2 linked regions of the Homo sapiens genome follow. The protein of the gene in region 1 purifies or fractionates together with the protein of each later gene. This does not show direct contact. Each region holds a gene or a part of one and is shown on either strand. Other genes may lie near its edges.

Evidence for each region. Proteins that work in one complex are often made in the same cells at the same time.
Region 2: the proteins of SCGB1C1 (region 1) and SEMA6A purify together in Homo sapiens (affinity purification with mass spectrometry; one large-scale study listed by BioGRID and IntAct). This does not show direct contact.

The regions. Positions count from the first base shown.
Region 1 is NC_000011.10:191,574-195,253, reverse strand, and holds SCGB1C1 (secretoglobin family 1C member 1 precursor), read right to left. Parts: upstream 2,155-3,680; coding exon 2,100-2,154; intron 1,543-2,099; coding exon 1,343-1,542; intron 837-1,342; coding exon 804-836; 3' UTR 679-803; downstream 1-678.
Region 2 is NC_000005.10:116,445,824-116,449,323, forward strand, and holds part of SEMA6A (semaphorin-6A isoform 2 precursor), read right to left. Parts: intron 1,989-3,500; coding exon 790-1,988; 3' UTR 1-789. UniProt on the Homo sapiens protein: Cell surface receptor for PLXNA2 that plays an important role in cell-cell signaling. Required for normal granule cell migration in the developing cerebellum.

The DNA of each region.
Region 1 (3,680 bases):
CCCAGTCCTGGACACTTCCTCTTTCTGGGGCTCCCACCTCATACCGCTGCCTCTGCCGCCCGTCTCCCTCCGGACGCCCCCTCCAGACGCCCCCTCCGGACGACCACGCAGTGTTGTCTGGCTCTGTGCTCTGTCCACCTGCCTACGTGGCGTCTGCCTGGATTTCCATTTTGGGTCTTGCCTGTGGTGTGCCTGCTCCTGTGTGGACCCTGTGTGTACCTCTGTGGGGACTTTCACACGTGTGTTCCTTGAGTGGGATCCTCTGTATGTGGGTCTGTGTGTGTGGCTGTGGCCCTGTGTTCCTGATGTCCCCATTTGTGTGTACCTCTGTGGGGACTTTCACACGTGTGTTCCTTGAGTGGGATCCTCTGTATGTGGGTCTGTGTGTGTGGCTGTGGCCCTGTGTTCCTGATGTCCCCATTTGTGTGTCCCTCTGTGGGGGACTTTCGCACGTGTGCTCCTTGAGTAGGATCCTCTGTATGTGGGTCTGTGTGTGTGGCTGTGGCCCTGTGTTCCTGATGTCCCCATTTGTGTGTCCCTCTGTGGGGACTTTCGCACGTGTGCTCCTTGAGTGGGATCCTCTGTATGTGGGTCTGTGTGTGTGGCTGTGGCCCCGAGTGTGTTCCTGATGTCCCCATTTGTGTGCCCCTCTGTGGGGGCAGAGACAGGAGCCTGAGCTGCGGAAGAGGCTTTATTGATTAAACGGTTTGAGGATACATTTCCATGTGGGAGGTGGTAGTGGGCGTTGTGTCCACGGCTGCTTGTGTGGCAGGTCCTATGGCTGAGCCATGTCTGAGGTCCACTTAGGCACCGTCCTGACTGCCCAGCACTTGCACCTGGAAGGCAGACACATGTGGACTAAGAGGGCTGTGCTCAATAAGTGGAGAGCCACAGCTCCATCAGGCAAGCAAGGCCCTCAGTGGGGGGGGGTCTGGCATATTGCTGCCTATCTCCTCCCAGCAGCTGGGAGGTGTGTGTGCACATGTGATGGTGTGCACACATGTATGTGTGTGCATATCCCAGTGTGAGCATGTGGGTGTGAACGTGTTTATACATGTGTGCACGCAGTGTACATTTCATGTCTGCACCTGTGTTTGGATCTCTGTGTATGTTCACATGTGTGCATGGAGGAGTATCCCACAGACTGGGGAGGAGGTCTATGGAGTCTGGGGGCTGCTCGGTGGACAGGAGGTCTGGGGTGTCCACCTGAGCTGGCTGATGCGGGTGCAATGTCTGTGGGTGGTGGATGTCTGTGGGTGGGGTAGGCTGTGTGGGTGCTGTGTTGGGTGGTCTTGGTAAGGCTGCAGATCTTTAGAAAATGGGGTGCCCGCCGCCCTCATACCAGCAGCTTGACCAGCTCCGCCTTGTGCATTGGCTGCAGGCCATCTATACAGGACTTGAGTTCAGTCATTGCTGCCTTGGCATCTTCGTTGACATTGTACTTGCCCAAGGTCCCCTCATAGAGCTCCTCTGGGGTCCCCACCAGTAGTGTTTGCAGGAAGTCCATGAAAAACTCATCGTTGTCCTCCCCTGTGGCCATCCCTGCATCACGAGCGAGATGATGCCAGGACAGGACAGGGTGACTCTGGTGCAACCACAGCCCTGGACCTGCCCCAGGGCTCCAACCTCCATGGTCTCCAGACCTTCCCCTTCAATGCCCACCTCTCCTCCCCAGGGCTTCCTCCACAACACCTCCAACTCCACCTTGCCCGAAGACCCCTCCACATCCCCCTTAATCTTAGCTGCTCCAATTTCCACTCAGCATTCCCTGGGATCACCAGGGAAGGAAAGTTAAGCTCCTGGTGTGGGGGAAATTTCCCCTGATGAGAGGCTATTATGACCAGAGGCTTGAAGGGTCAGGTCAGGCTGGACTGGGCTGGGGTAGGAGACACTGGGCTGGTGTTGGGTCAGCTGGGCTTTGTCCTTGGTTGGGGTGGAGTAGGGTGGGCGCGGGTTCTGCAGGGTCCTTGCCCACTTCTGTGACAGAAGCAGGTGGAGTGTTCACTGCAGAGGCCCGATGCCAGGATTTTACCTTCTCAGGTACCCCCCACTCCCCCCCACCCCTGAATGTTCTGGAAACCCCAGTGGCACAGACTCACGGCAGATGCAGAACAGGGTGAGGGCCACCAGCAGGAGGGCACGGCTCCCCTTCATGCCAGCAGTCTCAGGAGCTGCCTCCAGCCAGAATCCCGGGATTTTATGCCTCACCGGACAGCACCTCTCCTAGAGGGCGGACCGGACCTGCCCATTAGGACCCGGCAGCCAGCTTAGATGAGGTTTGTTCACATCCCTGGCCCCCAGTGGGTGCCAAGCAGCAACAGGCATGGAGTGGCTGTGTGACAGGTGGTTGGCAAGCGGCTTTAGGGTGTGTGAGAGAGAGAACAGGTGTGTTAGGAGGGAACACTGGTGAGAGGCCATGCCAACTGATCGGTGAAGAAGGCAGTGGGTCCTGGCCACCAAGGGCCTCTAGTCATGCCTGCCCTTGAGGCCGAGAGTGGTGGGATCTGGGGTTGGTCCCACGCCTTTCTTTTAAGGTGCGAATCCCTCCTCTTATCAGTGTGCTGTGTGATCTGGGTCTGCATCTGGGGGTCTCCAATCAGGCAGGGGCCCCTTACTACTCAGATGGGGTGGCCGAGTAGGGGAAGGGGGTGCAGGCTGCACGAGTGGACACAGCTGTAGGACTACCTGGGGGCTGTGGATCTATGGGGTGGGGAGAAGCCCAGTGACAGTGCCTAGAAGAGAGAAGGTGGCCTGAGAGGGTCTGAGGAACATAGAGCTGGCCATGTTGGGGCCAGGTCTCAGCAGGAAGTGAGGAATGGGACAGGCTTGAGGTACATCTTCCATCAGTAGCCAGGATAGCAAGGAGGGCTTGGGGTTGCTATCCTGGGGTTCAACCCCCCAGGTTGAAGGCCCTGGGGGAGATGGTCCCAGGACATATTACAATGGACACAGGAGGTTGGGACACCTGGAGTCACCAAACAAAACCATGCCAAGAGAGACCATGAGTAGGGGTGTCCCAGTCCAGCCCTCTGACTGAGCTGCATTGTTCAAATCCAAAGGGCCCCTGCTGCCACCTAGTGGCTGATGGCATCCACATGGCCCTGGGCCACACGCGTTTAGGGTCTCTGTGAAGACCAAGATCCTTGTTACATTGAACGACTCCTAAATGAGCAGAGATTTCCACCTATTCGAAACAATCACATAAAATCCCATCCTGGAAAAAGCCTGGGGGATGGCACTAAGGCTAGGGATAGGGTGGGATGAAGATTATAGTTACAGTAAGGGGTTTAGGGTTAGGGATCAACGTTGGTTAGGAGTCAGGGATACAGTAGGGTCACCGGTAAGGGTTAGGGGTTAGGGGTAGGGGTTAGGGTTAGGGTTAGGGTTAGGGGTTAGGGGTTAGGGTTAGGGTTAGGGTTAGGGTTAGGGGTTAGGGGTTAGGGTTAGGGTTAGGTTTTGGGGTGGCGTATTTTGGTCTTATACGCTGTGTTCCACTGGCAATGAAAAGAGTTCTTGTTTTTCCTTCAGCAATTTGTCATTTTTAAAAGAGTTTAGCAATTCTAACAGATATAGACCAGCTGTGCTATCTCATTGTGGTTTTCAATTGTAACCACATTGTGGTTTCAATGTGTTTACTTGCCATCTGTAGATCTTCTTTGGTGAGGTGTCTGTTCAGATGT
Region 2 (3,500 bases), on another chromosome or scaffold:
TAACTTTCAATGGGCTTTCTGAAGAGCTGTTCATAGGATGATATTTGGAAGAGTCCTTTCCTTAAGGAAAAAAAGGGTGAACAATAAATAAAGAGTTACTTGCGTTAACGGTCACGTTATTTCATTAAAAGAGAGGAGGAGCAGAAATCTATGACATAGTTGCCCAACATGGCATTTATCTGCTGCAACAGAAAGCTGTAACACTGGCGGGCATTTCACAGTATTTGCGCATAGTAAACTTCTGCCATTGTTAAAGTCTGAGTTAGAATTATCAATGAATTCTTTTTTTTTTGTCTTTTTAAATTTTCTTGATTTTAAAAAATGTATTTGTGTTTTGCAGGTTGGAACGCAAACCCAGTCTGGCCACGTCCCGTGAAGTTGTGGACAAAATGTTTCAGTTTCTGTTCACCTCTGTGCGTGTGTGTGTATGTGTTGTGTGCATGTGTGTGTGTGTGTGTGTGTGGGGGTGGGGGATGGGGTAGGTATGTGCTTTTGGCTCATGTTTGTGATGATAACTGAAGTCTTTTGTGGGTCCGACCTGTTGTAGGGTGTGGGGGAAAGTGAAGGAAGAGAATGAAGGTGAGTCCCCGCCGTTGCAAACCTTCACCAAACCACGCGGCCCAGTTTTCGTGAGTACCCCTGTGTCCCAGAGAGGAGGACCCAGCGTCCTCGGCTCTGCCGCAGGCCTTCTTGGTCTGGTGGGTACTCGAGGCAGTTGAGAACCTTGCTGAGCTGAGCGGGCACCTCGCCTTGCCTGCTGGTTCGACACCTGACCCCCTCCCCCTGGGATTATGTACACGCATCATTGGGCTTCATGGATGTGGAAAGGGGAGCAAAGGATGGTTTGGGGGGTACGTCCGGCTTTAGCGAGGGCGTACGCTTCAGCCCCGACCTTGTCAGTGAGTTGTAGGCGTTGAGGCTGGGCTGCCTCGAGACAGTCACGGCCTGGCCAGATGGCTGGGAGCTGTGCACCTGGATGGAGTCCACCCTCTGCGGGGCGGGCGGCGGGTTGTCTCCCCTGCCAAAGCTCTGGTTTCTGGAGAGGTGAGAGGAATTGGAGGAGTTAGTGTTGTTTCTTTTGAGAGTGGTGGCCTGGTGGCTTCTCGTGAGCGAGTTCGTGGGGTAGCTCCTCTTATAGTCAACCCCGTAGGAAGAGGAGTGGTGCATTTCCAGCCGCTTGCTTAGACCGGTCTGAGACAGGGAGGCTCCCGGGGGACCCAGGGAGGCCTCCCGCTGTGGAACTTTGGGGGGCAGGCTGTCCAGGTTCTCCACAAGGTTCACCCCATGGTTGGGACTCTTGCTGCTGAGATGTTCCTTGATGGTCTTATACTCCAGTGTGGCGGCCTGGTCCTCCAGCGCCATCTGGGCCACCTCGCTCATTTTGGGCTGGTCCACGTACTCATGCTGGTAGCCCTGCTGCGTGATGGGCAGGACCACCACGCTGGGGATGTGGCTGGGGGAGGCCCGCAGGGGCAGGTCCGTGGGAATCACAGGGGAGCCCATGGGGGGCATGTCCTTTGTGCAGGCATTGATGAGGTTCTGGTTCCTCTCCCACTCGCGGCTGCCGCGGCTGGGCTTCCGCTTCTGCTGCAGCGTTGGGGTTGACTCTGGGGTGGGGAGGGCCGTCAGGTCCAGGTGGTGCTGGTCTGCTTTAATGAGCATCTTGGCCGTGTTGCCGGGAGTGGCGAGCTTGCCGTTGTGCATGAGTGGCGTGAGGATGGCCTCCGGCTTTGGGTCTTTGGATTGAGTGTCCCCAAAGAGGCCGCTGAGCTTGGTGACGCTGCTCATGGAGCCCCGGCGCGAGTGGGTGAGCTCCTTCTCCTTGCGCTGCACCACAGCCACGTCTTTGCGCCGATGATCACAGACGCAGTAGACGGTGATGCCCGAGAAGACGGCCCCCATGACGAAAGCCAGGATGACTGCAATGGCCAAGAGGGTGACGGGAACCAGCTGGTCGTGGCCTTTGAGGTAACTTTCCCGAATCACTCCTGCAATAGACATCGCATATGGCGTTAAGAAATGAAAGCACACCCCGAGGCTTGTTTTTGCTTGGCATTCACCTTGTTAATTAATAACAGTAGTAAGTGACAACAGCACCTCTGCACAACTTGTCTTCCAAGCTCAGCTTGCCAAACATTAACCAATTAATCCTCCCCAAGCCCCTCGTGTGCAGTATGTAAATGGACTCCATTTGTAGCCTTCTTTGTTGTCTAAAAAAGTGCTGTTCAGGCCGGGCACGGTGACTCACGCCTGTAATCCCAGCACTTTGGGAGGCCGAGGCGGGTGGATCACGAGGTCAGGAGTTGAAGACCAGCCTGGCCAAGATGGTGAAACCCCCGTCTCTACTAAAAAAAAAAAAAAAAAAAAAAAAAATTAGCCAGGCGCGGTGGCGGGGGCTTGTGATCCTAGGTACTCCGGAGGCTGAGGTAGAGAATTGTTTGAACCTGGGAGGTGGAGGTTGCAGTGAAGGGAGATCAGGCCACTGTACTCCAGCCTGGGTGACAGAGCGAGACTCCGTTTCAAAAAAAGAAAGAAAGAAAAGTGCTGTTCACTCTTTCCAGTACCTGCACTTTCTACTCTGCTTCACTCCAGGGAATATGGGAGGTTTTGGCTTTCAAAAGTTATCTTTCTTTCCTTCTTTATGGCTTTTTAACCTTCCCTTCCTAGAACTGGGATAACCAAGTTATCCTGAGTCTGGAGGAAGAGGCAACAATTTTATGCATGTTAGACAAACAAATCACACACTCTGGGCTTCCAGTTGGGATCTTTTCCGACGGCCCCCTTGTGGCCACCGGAGCCTCCGTCTGGGGAAAAGTGTTTGCCTTTTAAGCAACTAGAGGAAAGAGAGTGTGTGTCATTTTTATTTACACTGAGAGAATATAGCTAAAGTTCACAGACTACAAATGTTTGTGCTGATTTTGCATCACCTCTCAAAAAAAAAAAAAAAAAAAAACAGTGCAAACTCAATTTCAGGTAACTATCCTGAATATTTGAATGAAGCTTTCTCACTGGAACTGAAAGAAGATTCAGAAATAAGACCATTTGGGGCCCTGTAGTGGGTTTGAGAAGTGTTAGGTACCATTATTGCACCTAGAGTTTGCTGTCACAGTGGGATTTTTCAGCAGAGCTAATCTCTTCAATTTAATAAAAATTATGTGACTACACCCATCCGTAATCTTACACTACATTAACCAGGATTCAGTGTTTCTGAAGGAAGGTGCTTTCGCTATTCCTGCTTAATCAGCCACCCAGCTGAGTGACTCTAATCAAATGCAAACACAGAAGCTTTTATTTTTTAATACCAAGTGAGAATACACATCACAGTTGTCAGATCTTAAGTGCTTGATGCAGTCGCTAAAAAATAAAATCTCTAATACCTCAATTCCTGCCTCTGGAGAGTGAAAGAACATGAATACATTAGAGGCACTGCATGGGCTGAGGAAATGTAAACATTGTTCCTATTATGGAAATGATAGCAAGACAGAAAAGGTACCTTCTCT